Linked DNA regions of Homo sapiens. The protein of the gene in region 1 binds, or shares a complex with, the protein of each later gene. Each region holds a gene or a part of one and is shown on either strand. Other genes may lie near its edges.

Region 1 (7,326 bases):
ACACTTCCATGGGCAAAGCCTCGTTCCCAAGAGGCCTTATTCACAATCTGTGAAGTAAAAGAATCGTTAAAAGACTGAGGCCAATTGAGGATTTTCAAAATAAAACTAGGTGGGACTATCATACTTGGTTTAGGATAACTGGCATCACATTTTAACTTTCCTCACATTTTCCAAATCACTGATACTAACTACAAAAACCCAGACATGGCTGGGCACGGTGGCTCACGCCTGTAATTCCAGCACTTTGGGAGGCCAAGGCAGGTGGATCACTTGAGGTCAGGAGTTCGAGACCAGCCTGGCCAACATGGTGAAACCCCATCTCTACTAAAAACACGAAAATTAGCCAGGCATGGTGATGGGTGCCTGTAGTCCCAGCTATTCGAGAGGCTGAGGCAGGAGAACTGCTTGAACCCAGAAGGTGGAGGTTGCAGTGAGCCAAGATCGTGCCACTGCACTCCAGCCTGGGCAACAGAGCGAGACTCCGTCTCAAAAATAAAAAACAAAAAACAAACAAACAAAAAACAAGAAAAACAAAAACCCAGGCACACAGAAATAGCTTAAAATCTAATCATACTTAAATATAAAAGGTAGATAGATCCAAAACCAAACTTCAAAATTTACTCATAATATGCACTCAAATATGCAAGACATACGTGTATCTGAATATTTAGTGGATATTCCTCAAGGCTTGCCCACTTTCAACTTAGACTAAGAACTAATCATTTAATAGAACATCACGTGCCAAATACTAGGTACTTGGGTACACAAAAATATTCCTTCAGTGATTTCACAGTAAACAAACAAGTTAAAAAATAAAAAGATTGGAACAACATTTCCTGGTAAAACTTACCATGGCATCTTCCATATCATAGCCAGTGTAAGAAATCACAGCAACGATGGCATTGGTCCCAATTGGATAGTTATCCATGTCATAATAATCATACATGGAGGGTCTCACCAAGGGACTCTGAGGAGTCTGAAGACGATACAGTTTGTTATCCGATCGGTCTTGATAAGTGAGAAGTGGAAAGCCCATAGTTTGCTTACCTACATGGAGAAAAAACATCTTAGCATTTTCTGCTGCTTTCATCTTGATTATAGGTGTGATACGCAACACTGGAAACAACTAAATATCCATCAGAGGAAAATGAACAAATAAATAGTCATGGTAGTTATGCTTACTTTAGACTAATACATAAGCTGTGAAAATGAAGTAAACCTAAATGTATCAACGTGACCAGACCAGGAAAACCATGCTGAGTGGGAGAAAGTGCAGACTGACATTTAATATGATACGATTTATGTGTATTTGCAACACACCCCAAACAATTCTATACTTAGTTTATGGATACATGTATGATGTAATAAAAGCTTTAGAAGGGGACAGAAAGGAAGTACGCAAATTACAGGCTATCACTACTCGGGGAAGAAAAGGGGATAGGAATTATTACGTAATTAGATTACTTTCTTACAGCGGAATATGTATTTAATTCTAAGTAGTGGAGCATGGGGTGAGATTCCTCTGTGTACTACCTCACAGTACAGAGAATCATTTCACGACAAAATGATTTTAAAATATAAATACATACAAGTGAAATTTTTAAAAAAATTATAGACTTAGAGCTTCCAGTAATAAAGGGCTACTCTTACTAGACCACCCTCAACACATAAGTATGAGACGCAGACCCCCAACTACACATACAGCACTGGAGAGTAACCAAAAGCTGTCAGAAGCTGAGAAGAATTTTTACTTGGACAAAAGGAACACACTGGGTGAATTTCCAGGTTTTTAAGTATTTATGTATTTATTTTTGCCTTATGGCCCAGTGTGGCAGCTACAACTTAGATAGAAACCCACAATCTTACTGGCTTGAAGAACCAAGAAATAGAGTTCTGAGCATGACAACAATTGGGAAGGGGGAACATTTCAGAAATGAGAGAACCACAAAGGGAGACCCTTAAATTCAGCATATAAATTGGGTCCGAATCTTTGGTGGACTCCTGAACTATGCATGCATGGGACAGATCACAGCAGCCCACCTAAGGCTGAAGAATGTACTTCAACTGCCACGTTCACCAAGTTAAGTACCAGTGAAAACTAAAAACCAATCCTCTTCCCCTGGAGAATTTTTGGTGACATGCACTGAACCAGGTGATGGACTGTGTATTAAGAAGGAAAGACATAAAATGAAAAAAATTAAAATGTAATTGAAGGCCAAACACCACACTAAAAACAAACAAAACCAATCCTCTTCAGAGGACCCTAACAGGATCCAGGGTTTAAAACATACTCCTCGCAATGTTCATAATACAATCCGATATTACTGGGCATACAAAGAAATGGTGAAACTTGACTTATACTCAAAGAGACTGATACTAAGATGACCCAGACATTGGAATCTGCAGATAATGATTTTACAACACCCATCATATAAAACTATGTTCAAAATATAAAGGAAAACATGCCCACAATGAATGAAGATAAGAAATCTTAGAGAAGAAAGAAACTATAAAAAAAGAAACAAGTCAGGCCAGGCGCAATGGCTCATGCCTGTAATCCCAGCACTTTGGGAGGCTGAGGCAGGCAGATCATTTGAGGTCAGGAGTTTGAGACCAGCCTGGCCAACATGATAAAACCCTGCCTCTACTAAAAATACAAAAAATTAGCTGGGCATGGTGGCACATGCCTGTAATCTCAGCTACTCAGGAGGTAGAGGCAGGAAAATTGCTTGAACTGGGGAGGCAGAGGTTGCAGTGAGCCAAGATCGTGCCACTGCACTCCAGCCTGGGTGACAGAGCGATACCCTGTCTCAAAAAAAAAAAAAAGAAAAAAAAAAGAAACAAGTAGAAGTGCTGGACTTGAAAAATACAGGCATGCACTGCATAACAATGTTTTAGTCAATGCAGGATGGCATATATACTATGGTGATCCCATATTTTTACTGTACCTTTTCTATGTTTAGCTACACAAATCCTTGCCATTGTCTTACAACTGTAGACAGTACACAGTACAGTTACATGCCACCCAGGTTTGTAGCCTAGGAGCAACAGGCTATACCATATACTAGGTGTGTAGTAGTCTCTGCCATCTAGGTTTGTGTAAGTTCACTCTATGATGTTCACACTACGACAAAATCACATATGACTCACTTCTTCGAAGGTATCCCTGTCGTTAAGGGCACATGACTGTAAGCAAAAATTCAGTAGAAGACAGAATAAAAAGTGACTGTGATAATAGGTCAATAAAAATAATCCAATCTGGGCCAGGTGCAGTGGCTCACACCTGTAACCCCAGCATTTTGGGAGGCTGAGGCAGGCAGATCACTTCAGGTCAGGAGTTTGAGACCAGCCAGGCCAACATGGTGAAACCGTATCTCTACTAAAACACAAAAATTAGCTGGGCATGGTGGTGTGTGCCTGTAATCCCAGCTCCTCAGGAGGCTGAGGCAGGAGAATTTATTGAACATGGGAGGCAGAGGTTGCAGTGAGCCGAGATTGTACCACTGCACTCCAGTCTGGGCAACAAAGTGAGACTCCATCTCGGGAAAAAAAAAAAAAGATCCAATCTGAAGAAAATAAAGAAAAAAGAGAACAGAAACTCAATGTCTTATGGAACAATATCAAAAGGTTTAAATATATGAATAACTGATAGAAGAGGAGGAAAGAGAGAAAAGGATAGGAGCAATGTTTTTAAAAATAATGACAGAAGAGTTTAGCAATTTAATTAAACTGAAAAAAAACAAAATTTGAGGCCGGGCGCAGTGGCTCACGCCTGTAATACAGCACTTTGGGAGGCCAAAGTGGGCAGGTCACCTGAGGTCAGGAGTTCGAGACCAGCCTTGCCAACATGGTGAAACCCCGTCTCTACTAAAAATACAAAAATTAGCTGGGTGTGGTGGTGAGTCCCTGTAGACCCAGCTACTTGGAAGGCTGAAGCAGGAGAATCACTTGAACCCAGGAGACAGAGGTTGCAGTAAGCCGAGATCACACCACTGCACTCCAGCCTAGGCGACAGAGCGAGACTCTGTCTCAAAAAAAAAAAAAAAGAAACACACTATATTCAGAAGACTGCTGCCTTCTAACTAGAAATGACAGAGACTAAGAAGAGACAGTGTAACAACAACTTTTAAGTGTTGGAAGAAAAATAACTGTCAACTCAGAATTGTATATCCAGTGAAAGATTCCTTCAAGTGAAGCAAAATAAAGACATTTTCAGATAAATGAAAACAAAGAGAATTTGTGGCCAGCAACCTGCACTATAAAAAAATGCTAAAGGAAGATTATCAGGCTGAAGGAAAATTGTATACAATGAAAACTTGAATCTTGCAGCAGGAATGAAGAGGACTGGAAGTGATAAATATGCGGGTGACTATAATTGCTTGTATTCTTCAAAAAATCAAATAATAAGACCTCAGGCACACCCAAATCTATGGACATTCTATACCTTTTTCTTCAAAAATGTCAATGTCAAAGACAAAGAATGTTTAAAGATCTGTCATAAATTACAGGAAACTAAATAGACATGCCAACTAAATACAATGAGTGATCCTGGGCTGGTTGCTTGTGGCACAGAAAAAAGAAAAACTTGCCATAAACTGTATTTTTGGAACAAATGGTCAGCATATGTAAATAAGGACAATAAAAGAGTGTGCTAGTATCAAGTTTACTTTCCTGATTGTGACTGTAACATCATCCCTCTTCCTTACCCATCTGGCATTGGTACATGTTCCGTGGACTCTGGTTGTGATCAGAGAAAGGGATGAAGTTGGCAATCACACTCAGCAGGCTGTGTGGAAAGAGTTCCTGGTGTGTGGTAACTCCAGCAAAAACTTCATCCTCAAAGATAGCGACATTCATGAAGATCTGGAAGAGCAGATGTCCAAGGCACAAAATAACTGCAACTGGTTACACATTTACTCTTACCATTTCTCAGAGTTCAGTACTCAAAGACTCAAGAGAAAACCATCCCCACCCAGCATCATGAGTGCTGAAGGGATCAACTGGGAAGCACAGGGAAGCGACCAGTTAGAAATACCACTTGCTTTACGTATCTCACTCTAAAACTACCCCAGACCAATTGTGAAGGGGAATAGGAAGAAAAATTTTTAAGTAGCACAAAGCCTATAATTTTGCAACTGTAAATATGTAGGCAAAGACTGAGTGTGAATCTAATGGAATGTTTTCACTTCACGGCTGAGGCAGAGCCAGGTACAAAGGAGTTCTGGGAGCTAGATAAGATGGGAGGCAGGTAATGTGACCACCAGCCCTCTCTCAGGTTCTGTGGAGTGAGATCAGACATGGAAATTGCTCTGTGCTGATCATAGAGGAGGTGGAAAGTCTGACTTTCTTTCAAATGTCCAACTGTTGTTGTAACATTAACAACCCTTTTAAAAAAGGAAGAGTTAAGTCTCTGAAAGTTGTATACTATACAAACAAGCACATACACTCATCCATCACACATATGTATTTACCTGTTCCATAGTTCCAATTAGCTCTTCTTTGCCCAATGCTAAGTTCTGCACAGGCCGTACCAGTCTACAAGGAGTGGTAAAAAGGAACAATCCTGGGTACAGACTTGGTTTTCCTGTCATGGGTATAAGGACCACTTCCATCCAGGGAGGAATTCTTTTCTCTCTCAACACCTGTTTTTAACAAAAACAGAGTTTAACAAACCTGTCCCAAGGCCATGGCTGTCGCTGCCAGTCTTATGCCCCATGGAATACCACTCATCCACACTCAGCCATGGTAAAAGCCCTACTTCCTTGGGTGCTCACCCCAGCTAGTAGGCAAATCACTAACTACTGAGGCTAAGGATAAAGCACACCATGAATGCACGTGTCGATACACTAAAGGAAATTCTGTCCTCTGTGATCTAAAATACAGTAGATTACTGGTTTTATTTGTAAATTTAATAAACCAAAAACTCATGGGTGGGCCGGGGGTGGCTTATACCTGTAATCCCAGCACTTTAGGAGGCCAAAGTGGGTGGATCACTTGAGCCCAGAGGTTCAAGACCAGCCTGGGCAACATGATGAAACCCCGTCTCTACAAAAATTAAAAAATTACCTGAGTGTGGTGGTACGTGCCTGTAGTCCCAGCTAATCGGGAGGCTGAGGTGGGAGGATCACTTGAGCCCAGGAGGTTGAGGCTGCAGTGAGCCATGATCATGCCACTGCACTCCAGCCTGGGTGACAGAGTGACCCTGTCTCAAAAACAAAACAAAAAAACTCCAACAAACTCCTGGGTGAAAGGAGAAATAAAAACCTAAATTACAGAAACCTGAAAACAACAACAACAACAACAACAACAACAAACCCATGTGTCAGAACTCATGGGGATTCACAGCTAGATGCATTATCATTAAAAATGAGAGAATGTTTGGTGGAGGGGGACACGGGGAGATGTTGGTCAAAGAGTATAAAGCTTCAGTTATGCAACAAAATTAAGTTTCTGGAGATCTCATGTACAGCATGTGACTATAGTTAAGAATACTATATTGCATGCTTGAAATTTACTAAGAGAGCAGATCTTAAGTGTCCTCATCCTCCGATGCTCCACAATGCTAACCAAAAAAAAGAGAATGAAAATAAATTCTCTATAAAAAAGATAAAATCTGAGACTAATGAGGCAGGTAGCTCATTTGAGGTCAGGAGTTCGAGACCAGCCGGGGCAACATGGAGAAACCCCATCTCTACTAAAAATATAAAAATTACCCAGGCATGGTGGTGTGCACCTGTAATCCCAGCTACTTGGGAGACCGAGGCAGGAGAATTGCTTGAACATGGGAGGCGGAGGCTGCAGTGAGCCAAGATCACACCACTGCACTGCAGCCTGGGCGACAGAGCGAGACTCTGCCTCAAAAAAAAAAAAAAAGAGGAATGATTGTTTAATGGTTACAGAGTTTCAATTTGTGATGATGAGAAAGTTCTGAAGATGGTGATGACTCCACAACATGAATGTACTTAAAACCCTCAACTGTACACTAGATCAAATCTCATACACTTTCTGAGCATCAAAATAAGTAGTAACAGAATATTCACAAAATTAAACAAGCATCTATAAATCTACGCTAACATAAATAAATGAACAACTAATAGAAAAGAAAGCCCTCCCTTACAGAATAGCAACTAATAAACATAGAAAAAATGCTGGTGGGGGAAAACACCATGTGGTAACCATCACAGTAATATTAACTCAGCAAAGAACCACCAATGGAATAGTAATTCAGCTAATAATCCATCAACTAGTGGGTGAAAATATGAAGAAAGAGGGCTCCACATAGCTTTCAACTATCTCTCCACAAGTTACTTATTACAGAGAAAAACA
Region 2 (7,326 bases), on another chromosome or scaffold:
TGGCGGCAAGAGAAAATGAGGAAGATGTAAAAGTGGAAACCCCTGATAAAACCATCAGATCTCTTGAGACTTATTCACTATCACGAGAACAGTATGGGGGAAACCTACCCTATGATTCAAATTATCTCCCACCAGTCCCCCCCCAGCAACATGTGTGACTTACAGGAGGAGTACGATTCAAGATGAGATTTGGGGCCAGGCGCGGTGGCTCATGCCTGTAATTCCAGCACTTTGGGAAGCTGAGGCCGGTGGATCACCTGAGGTCAGGAGTTCGAGACCAGCCTGACTAACATGGAGTAACCCCATCTCTACTAAAAATACAAAATTAGCTGGGCACAGTGGCACATGACTGTAATCCCAGCTACTCGGGAGGCTGAGGCAGGAGAATCTCTTGAACCTGGGGGGCGGAGTTTGCGGTGAGCCGAGATCTTGCCATTGTATTCCAGCCTGGGCAACAAGAGCAAAACTCTGCCTCAAAAAAAAAAAAAAAAGTGATTTGGGTGGGGACACAGAGCCAGACCATATCAGAGCTAGAATAAATGTTGAATTTGTTGAGGCTGCCTGGCATAGAGCATCATGTGATAGTTGTCGATTTTATATAAGTATGTAGTAAAAGGGGCTTGGTTTATTATATTTAAATTCCTTCATGACCTAGGTCAGTTTACAGGCTTGCACCATAATTGTGTATTGTGTTGGGGTGTGATATAAGGCACTAATCTGGACACCTTGAACATGCGTATATCAGATGAATTTCCATCCCAAAATAACATAGTTGTATTTTTTAAATCCTTTTATTCTTTTTTTTTCTCCCTTTGTTATAGGTGAATGCATCCCGGCAGGGTATTGAAGATGCTGAAGAAACAGCAACTCAAACTTGTGGTGGGACAGATTCCACGGAAGGATTGTTTAATATGGTTAGCAGTTTATTAATGAAAGTGGAGATGAAGTTTATCATAAAGGGTGGAAACAGCTAGTGCTGCTCATCTTTGTTAAGGCTTTAGATTGAAAGAATTAAAATAGTTCAGCAAACTTGAAAACGATTCCTTATATGAGTAATTTGCTGCCATGTCATTTAGCACTTAGCATAGTTGGTCTATTTCCAAGGCTTTGAATTTGGGTTTGGTGAAGTATGTTTCACTTTTGTTCTTGTAACTTTCAGTGTTTGTTTTTGTAAGCCAGATGCTGTCTGTGAGGGCGTGGTTAATAGAAAAGCATACCTGTTTAATTTCTGCATTTTACCACTTGTACACTTTATAGCATTACTTCTTTTGGGTGGTATCTGAAGTTGGGTTCAGTGGAAGGAGAGTCTGAGACAGGGATTCAGGTGCCCTTGGGACAGAGGGTGTCAGGGAGCAGAAGAGGGCAGGGGAGCTAAACGGGGGCCGGGTCTCACTTGGGAGGTCGCTACAGCCTGCTCCCACCAGGCATTCTGGGGCATGGATTGGTCTACAGAGTTTGTTCCCAGCTTGAGACCAAGGAGATGTCCTTTTCTGATGCCTTGTCAATCAGTCATTGGTTCTAAGGGGGAGGGGCTGGAAAGAGTGCAAGGGTGGTCCTGGCTCCTTTCTGCTCAGGGCAGCTCTGGAGAAAGTAGGCGGCTGTGAGCTATTGGCCGCCAGTACTCACAGCAGTGGGGAGGTGGATATCCCGACCTGCAAAAGGGGGCCCGGCACCAAAAGCACCCGCCATGGTGGGCACCAGGAGCAGAGGTAGGGGGCATCTGTGATTTTTGCATGGATAGGTCTCATTGGGTCTTCTCAATGAGAATCAGAAGCTGGTGCTGTGAGTCTTGGCTTTTATTTTAAATTTCACTGGTGGTTCTGATTCACATCCCTGAATGAGACCCCTGCCTGGAAAGGTGTCTGCATTTCTTTCTTTCTTTTCTTTCTTTTTTAATTTGAGACAGGGTCTCACTCTGTTGCCCAGGCTGGAGTGTGGCAGTGTGTGATCTTGGCCCACTCCAGCCTCGACCTCCTGGGCCCAAGTGATCTGCCCACCTCAGCCTCCCCGAGTAGCTGGGACTACAGTGTACCACCGCACCCAGCTACTTTTTTTCTATTTTTGTAGAGACAGGTCTCACTGTGTTGCCCAGGCTGGTCTCAAGTTCCTGAGCTCAAGTGATCCTCCTGCCTTGGCCTCCCAAAGTGTTGGTAATTATAGGCGTGAGCCACTGTGCGTGGTCCATTTCTTTGTTTTAGTTTAGTTTTTTTTTTTTTTTTTTGGTGGGGCACAGAGTCTTCCTCTGTTGCCCAGGCTGGAGCACACGAACTCGGCTCACTGTAGCCTCCTCCACCTCCCAGTTCAAGCTATTTTCCTGCCTCTGCCTCCTGAGTAACTGGAATTACAGGCGTGCACCACCATACCTGGCTAATTCTTGTATTTTTAGTAGAGACAGAGTTTTACCATGTTGGCCAGGCTGGTCTCAAACTCCTGACCTCAAGTGATCCCCCCACCTCTGCTTCCCAAAGTGCTGGGCTTATAGATGTGAGCCGCTTTCCCCAGCCTCTTTGTTTTATCTTTTAAGGGAAATAATCACTTATGACAGTTTTCCTACTAAACCACTTTGACATTGAATTTTTTAATGTTAGTATTTACTTTTTGTCTTCAAAGGATGAAGATGAAGAAACTGAACATGAAACAAAGGCTGGTCCTGAACGGCTCGACCAGATGGTGCATCCTGTAGCCGAGCGCCTGGACATCCTGATGTCTTTGGTTTTGTCCTACATGAAGGATGTCTGCTATGTAGATGGTAAATCACAGTAGCTACTGTTTATTGAACACCTGCAGTGTACCTGGCTTTGTGCTGGGCATTTTCCATCCATTATCTCTAGTAATACTAAAAATCCTGTAAAAATATCTATTGAGTATGAGTTTAAGATGATTTAAAGAGGTCAAGTTACTTGCCAGTCACATAGCTTGAAAATGGGACTGGGATTCTGGCTGAGTTATATTTGTCTTCTGTCTTTTCACTGATTGTTGTATTGAAAGATTATATATGGAGTTTGGCCAGTTTTAGATCAAATTACGCTCAAGTTGCTGAATGCACTGAAGAATGATGTAGGGTGCACTAATATATGGTGCTCCGTTATGTATTGAGTTTAGAGGGTCTTTGCCTGGCACCATTGTTGTGCCAGTGTTAGTACTATATGTGCTTCTTGACTTCATGGAACTTTAAAGGCTTTGCCAGGCGAAAACAGAATTTTTTTCCATTCACATTGCTAAGATTTAAGATGAGCTCAGTGAGTCAGAATAATAGAACTGGAATCTGAGTTGACTGCATTACTGTTTTAACGGTCTTGCTGTTATAAAAATAATACATGTTGATTAGAGAATTTGGAAACTACAGGAAAGGATAAAAACAATTTAAATGGCCACATTTCTACTCTTCAGAGAACCATTGTGAGCATTTTGAAGTTTGACTTTTTTCCCTTTTCTGTTAGCGTCTGTATATGTAGGAGAGTATTTTTTAGTGAATTTGGGTGTCACACTAAACACAAGTGTTTCATAATCTGCCCTTTACATGGATGCTGAAGATAAACATTTTCTCATATCATTGCCTGTTTTAAAATAATTGTTATTGAATCCCAGCACTTAGGCCAAGGTGGGAGGATCACTGAGGCCAGGAGTTCAAGACTAACTATCCTGGGCAACATAACAAGACCCCATCTCTAAAAAAAAAAGTCGTAATAATAAATGTTGTTGGTCACATGGGTTTAACTGTCTTTTACTGTTTTCACCATGATAAGTAACAGTTATAATGAACATACTTGTGCCTATATATTCAGCTGTTTACTAACAGTAAAATGATCGGATTAGAGGTCTTTTGCTACACGAATGATAGAATTGCTCTTCAGAAGGGTTTGCATTTCTGACCTTGCCACAGTGTGTGAGGTGAGGGCCTGCTTCCTTGCAGGTGTTAGATTATTATATTCAGAGGAAAATCTGTGTAAACTAAAAGTAGCATTTTGTTTTAATGGTATTTTAATGGATAATGTCTGTCTTTCTTTTTTTTTTAAATAGCCACGGTCTTACTCTAACCCAGGCTGGAATGCAGTCGCACAAACATGGCTTACTGCAGCCTTGACCTCCTGGGCTCAAGCGGTTCATCCGCCTCAGCCTCCCATGTAGCTGGGATCACAGGCGTGCCACCATGCCTGGCTAATTTTTTGATTTTTTGTAGAGACAGAGCTTCCCTGTGTTCCCCAGGCTGCCCTTGAACTCCCGGGCTCCCTCTCACTTTGGCCTCCCAAAGTGCTGGGATTGCAGGCAGGAGCCACTGTGCTTGGCTGGATAATGTTGTTTTTTAATGGTGTTGTGTTTATAAAAAATATGGCAGATGAAACTTGAAAATATGTCTTTATAAAAACTGAGATGCCAGATTTTCTCCATAGGTAAGGTTGATAACGGCAAAACAAAGGATCTATATCGCGACCTGATAAACATCTTTGACAAACTCCTGTTGCCCACCCATGCCTCCTGCCATGTACAGTTTTTCATGTTTTACCTCTGTAGTTTCAAATTGGTGAGTAAGAATGTGATTAACATTATCTTAGCTTACTTTGTTTTTGCCCAAAAATTTTCCCTAAAAACTGGGGTGGACGGAGACCATGAAGTAAATAATTCTTTTCTTTGAGCTTACTTGCTAGTCTGCTTAATAAAATCGCATTCTCCTTTCTTTTTTTGTTTTCTTTTCCTTTCTTTTTTGAGACACAGTCTCGCTCTGCTGCCCACTGCTGCAACCTCCACCTCTTGGGCTCAACGGACTCTCAGTCCTTACCCTCTCGATAGCTGGGACCACAGGTTACCATGCCTGGCTAATTTTTGTATTTTTAGAAGAGGTGGGGTTTCGCCACGTTGGCCATACTGGTCTTGAACTCCTGACCACAAGTGATCTGCCCGCCTCCTGCCCCGCAAAGCGTTGGGATTACAGGTGTGAACAACTGTGCCTGGCCCACGTTCCCTTCTCAGTACACTTGGAGAGAAAACAGATTGCTGCCTGCCAGCCCAGCTAGGTGCTCCGAAAATGTCATCCTGCCTTTTGGTCACTAGGTGGTGCTCTTCCCTTAAGCCTTTCTCTATTAAAATCTCATATGGGGTAATTAACTGTATTTCCTTTATTCTTTCCAAGGGTTGAGTTGTAACTAGCCCAAACCAACTTATTAATCTAGAATTTTAAAAACTTTAGGCTTTGTCTTTTCTTCTTCTTCTTCTTTTTTTTTTTTTTTTGGTGGGGGAAAGAATGTAGAAGGCTTTTCCTTCTCTGCAACGATTTTGTGGCTTCCTAGAGATCAGGAGAGTGTTGGTCATGGGAAAGAAGGTTGAATTCAGTCTGCCCACATGGGTGTGCCTAGCTTTAGAACAGCGCTATTTAGGAGAAGTTGGAAGTTACACCCTTTGGTGAGAAGCTGTGTCTGTTTTTTTCCATGATTGGCATAATTAACTCAAATACCAGCTGTGCGTTAGTCCGTATTTCTGTTCGTGGTTGAGTTCAGTGTGTCCAGAGACCGGAAGGTGCTTTGCACTCACAGGAGTGCCCATGTGGAGCTCCATGGGATGTGAATTATTGTTGGTCACCAGTTCTGGCTGACATTGGAATCACTTGAAGAGTTTTTGTAATATGTGGATTCCAAAGCCCTGTCACAAACCTATTGAATTTGTACCTCCCAGGTTGAATTTTTTGTTGTTTTTTGTTTGTTTGTTTTTTGAGATGGAGTCTCACTCTGTCACCCAGGCTGGAGTGTAGTGGCATGATCTCAGCTCACTGCAACCTCTGCCTCCTGGGTTCAAGCGATTCTCCTGCCTCAGCCTCCCAAGTAGCTGGGATTACAGGCACCTGCCACCATGCCTGGCTAATTTTTGTATTTTTAGTAGAGACAGGGTTTCTCCATGTTGGCCAGGCTGGTCTCGAGCTCCTGACCTTGGGTGATCCACCCGCCTCGGCCTCCCAAAGTGCTGGGATTACAGGCGTGAGCCACTGTGCCTGGCCCCGGGTTGATTGTGATGCTTAGCTAGGTTTGGGATCCACTGGATTATTTAACACCCGAGGTGCCTTTTGTTTTTAATGATATTCTCTCAATGTGTTTTAAAAATGAAGCCCATGAGATAGTTATGAGATAGTAGAACTTTTCCCTACATTGGTGAAGTAAAAATCTTGGGATTTTGATAGCCAGATTATCTTAGGCATTAAAAAAGATCACACCGACGCCCTCTCTTTTTATAGGGATTCGCAGAGGCATTTTTGGAACATCTCTGGAAAAAATTGCAGGACCCAAGTAATCCTGCCATCATCAGGCAGGCTGCTGGAAATTATATTGGAAGCTTTTTGGCAAGAGCTAAATTTATTCCTCTTATGTAAGTAGCCTAATTTTCCGAATACTTTTTAATATCATGCTTTAAAAAGAGTATAGCATTGTCTCAAGTCAGAAATATCTCCCATTTTTTTTGGCATGTTTTTAAAGTGAATAAAATCCCTACTCTGTGCAAGATGTTTATATTTCTAAGTGGTGATTTTAGAATAAAGTGTCTCCTTTTTTATATATAAAACCCTGTATGTAAGGCTTTTGTCATCTCTTTTGGTTGCACTTAAAGATCCATTTGTTTTGTGGATAGAGGACAGTGTTGTATACTGTTTTGATTCTTTTTGTAGGTTTGTCATTTTTTCATTTGCATTCCAAATCTATTGTATCTGTTAAAGCTGAAGAAAAACCCTTTTAAAGGTAATAGACCTATCTAGGAGGCCAGTTTCTTCCAGTGGCCCATAAAGATACCTTTGGACAAGGATGCTGTTGAAACCCTTCCCCAACCACAAAATTATTCACCATAGGACTTGACTAGGATGCATCAGGGAATACTGAAGTCCACCAGACTGTCTTTCTCTTGAGAGGTGTTGGTGAACGTGTCCTGTTTGGCCAATCACCTTAAGAGGGGTGCCTTTGAGATGGTTAGGAGAACCTGCTTTCCATCCCTTGGGACGTTCTTAGGGGCTCACCTGTTCCTAGAAGGTCAGAGCTACTCTGCCTTGTAATTGGAAGGTTGTCTTCCTACGCACCCATCCTTATCCTTCCTTTCTTTGCTTTTCCTCTGTACCCATGGGTATTATTTAAAGAAACCTATGAACTTACTTAGCATGGTTTGTAATGAAAGGCAGTTGTGTGTTTTTATGTTATTCTGGTTTTTTTATGATGTGTAAAGTTGACTTGAATTTTTCTTTTCTCTAGTACTGTAAAATCATGCCTAGATCTTTTGGTTAACTGGCTGCACATATACCTTAATAACCAGGATTCGGGAACAAAGGCATTCTGCGATGTTGCTCTCCATGGACCATTT

The links. The genes of interacting proteins can lie anywhere in the genome.
Region 2: POLR1B (region 1) and RRN3 share a complex: the UniProt entries of both Homo sapiens proteins name them as parts of the pol I pre-initiation complex.

Annotation. Positions count from the first base shown.
Region 1 is NC_000002.12:112,566,283-112,573,608, reverse strand, and holds part of POLR1B (DNA-directed RNA polymerase I subunit RPA2), read right to left. Parts: intron 6,852-7,326; coding exon of another isoform or gene 6,714-6,851; intron 5,643-6,713; coding exon 5,472-5,642; intron 4,864-5,471; coding exon 4,707-4,863; intron 1,048-4,706; coding exon 851-1,047; intron 48-850; coding exon 1-47. UniProt on the Homo sapiens protein: Catalytic core component of RNA polymerase I (Pol I), a DNA-dependent RNA polymerase which synthesizes ribosomal RNA precursors using the four ribonucleoside triphosphates as substrates.
Region 2 is NC_000016.10:15,070,146-15,077,471, reverse strand, and holds part of RRN3 (RNA polymerase I-specific transcription initiation factor RRN3), read left to right. Parts: intron 1-821; coding exon 822-914; intron 915-2,610; coding exon 2,611-2,749; intron 2,750-4,391; coding exon 4,392-4,522; intron 4,523-6,220; coding exon 6,221-6,351; intron 6,352-7,217; coding exon 7,218-7,326. UniProt on the Homo sapiens protein: Required for efficient transcription initiation by RNA polymerase I (Pol I). Required for the formation of the competent pre-initiation complex (PIC).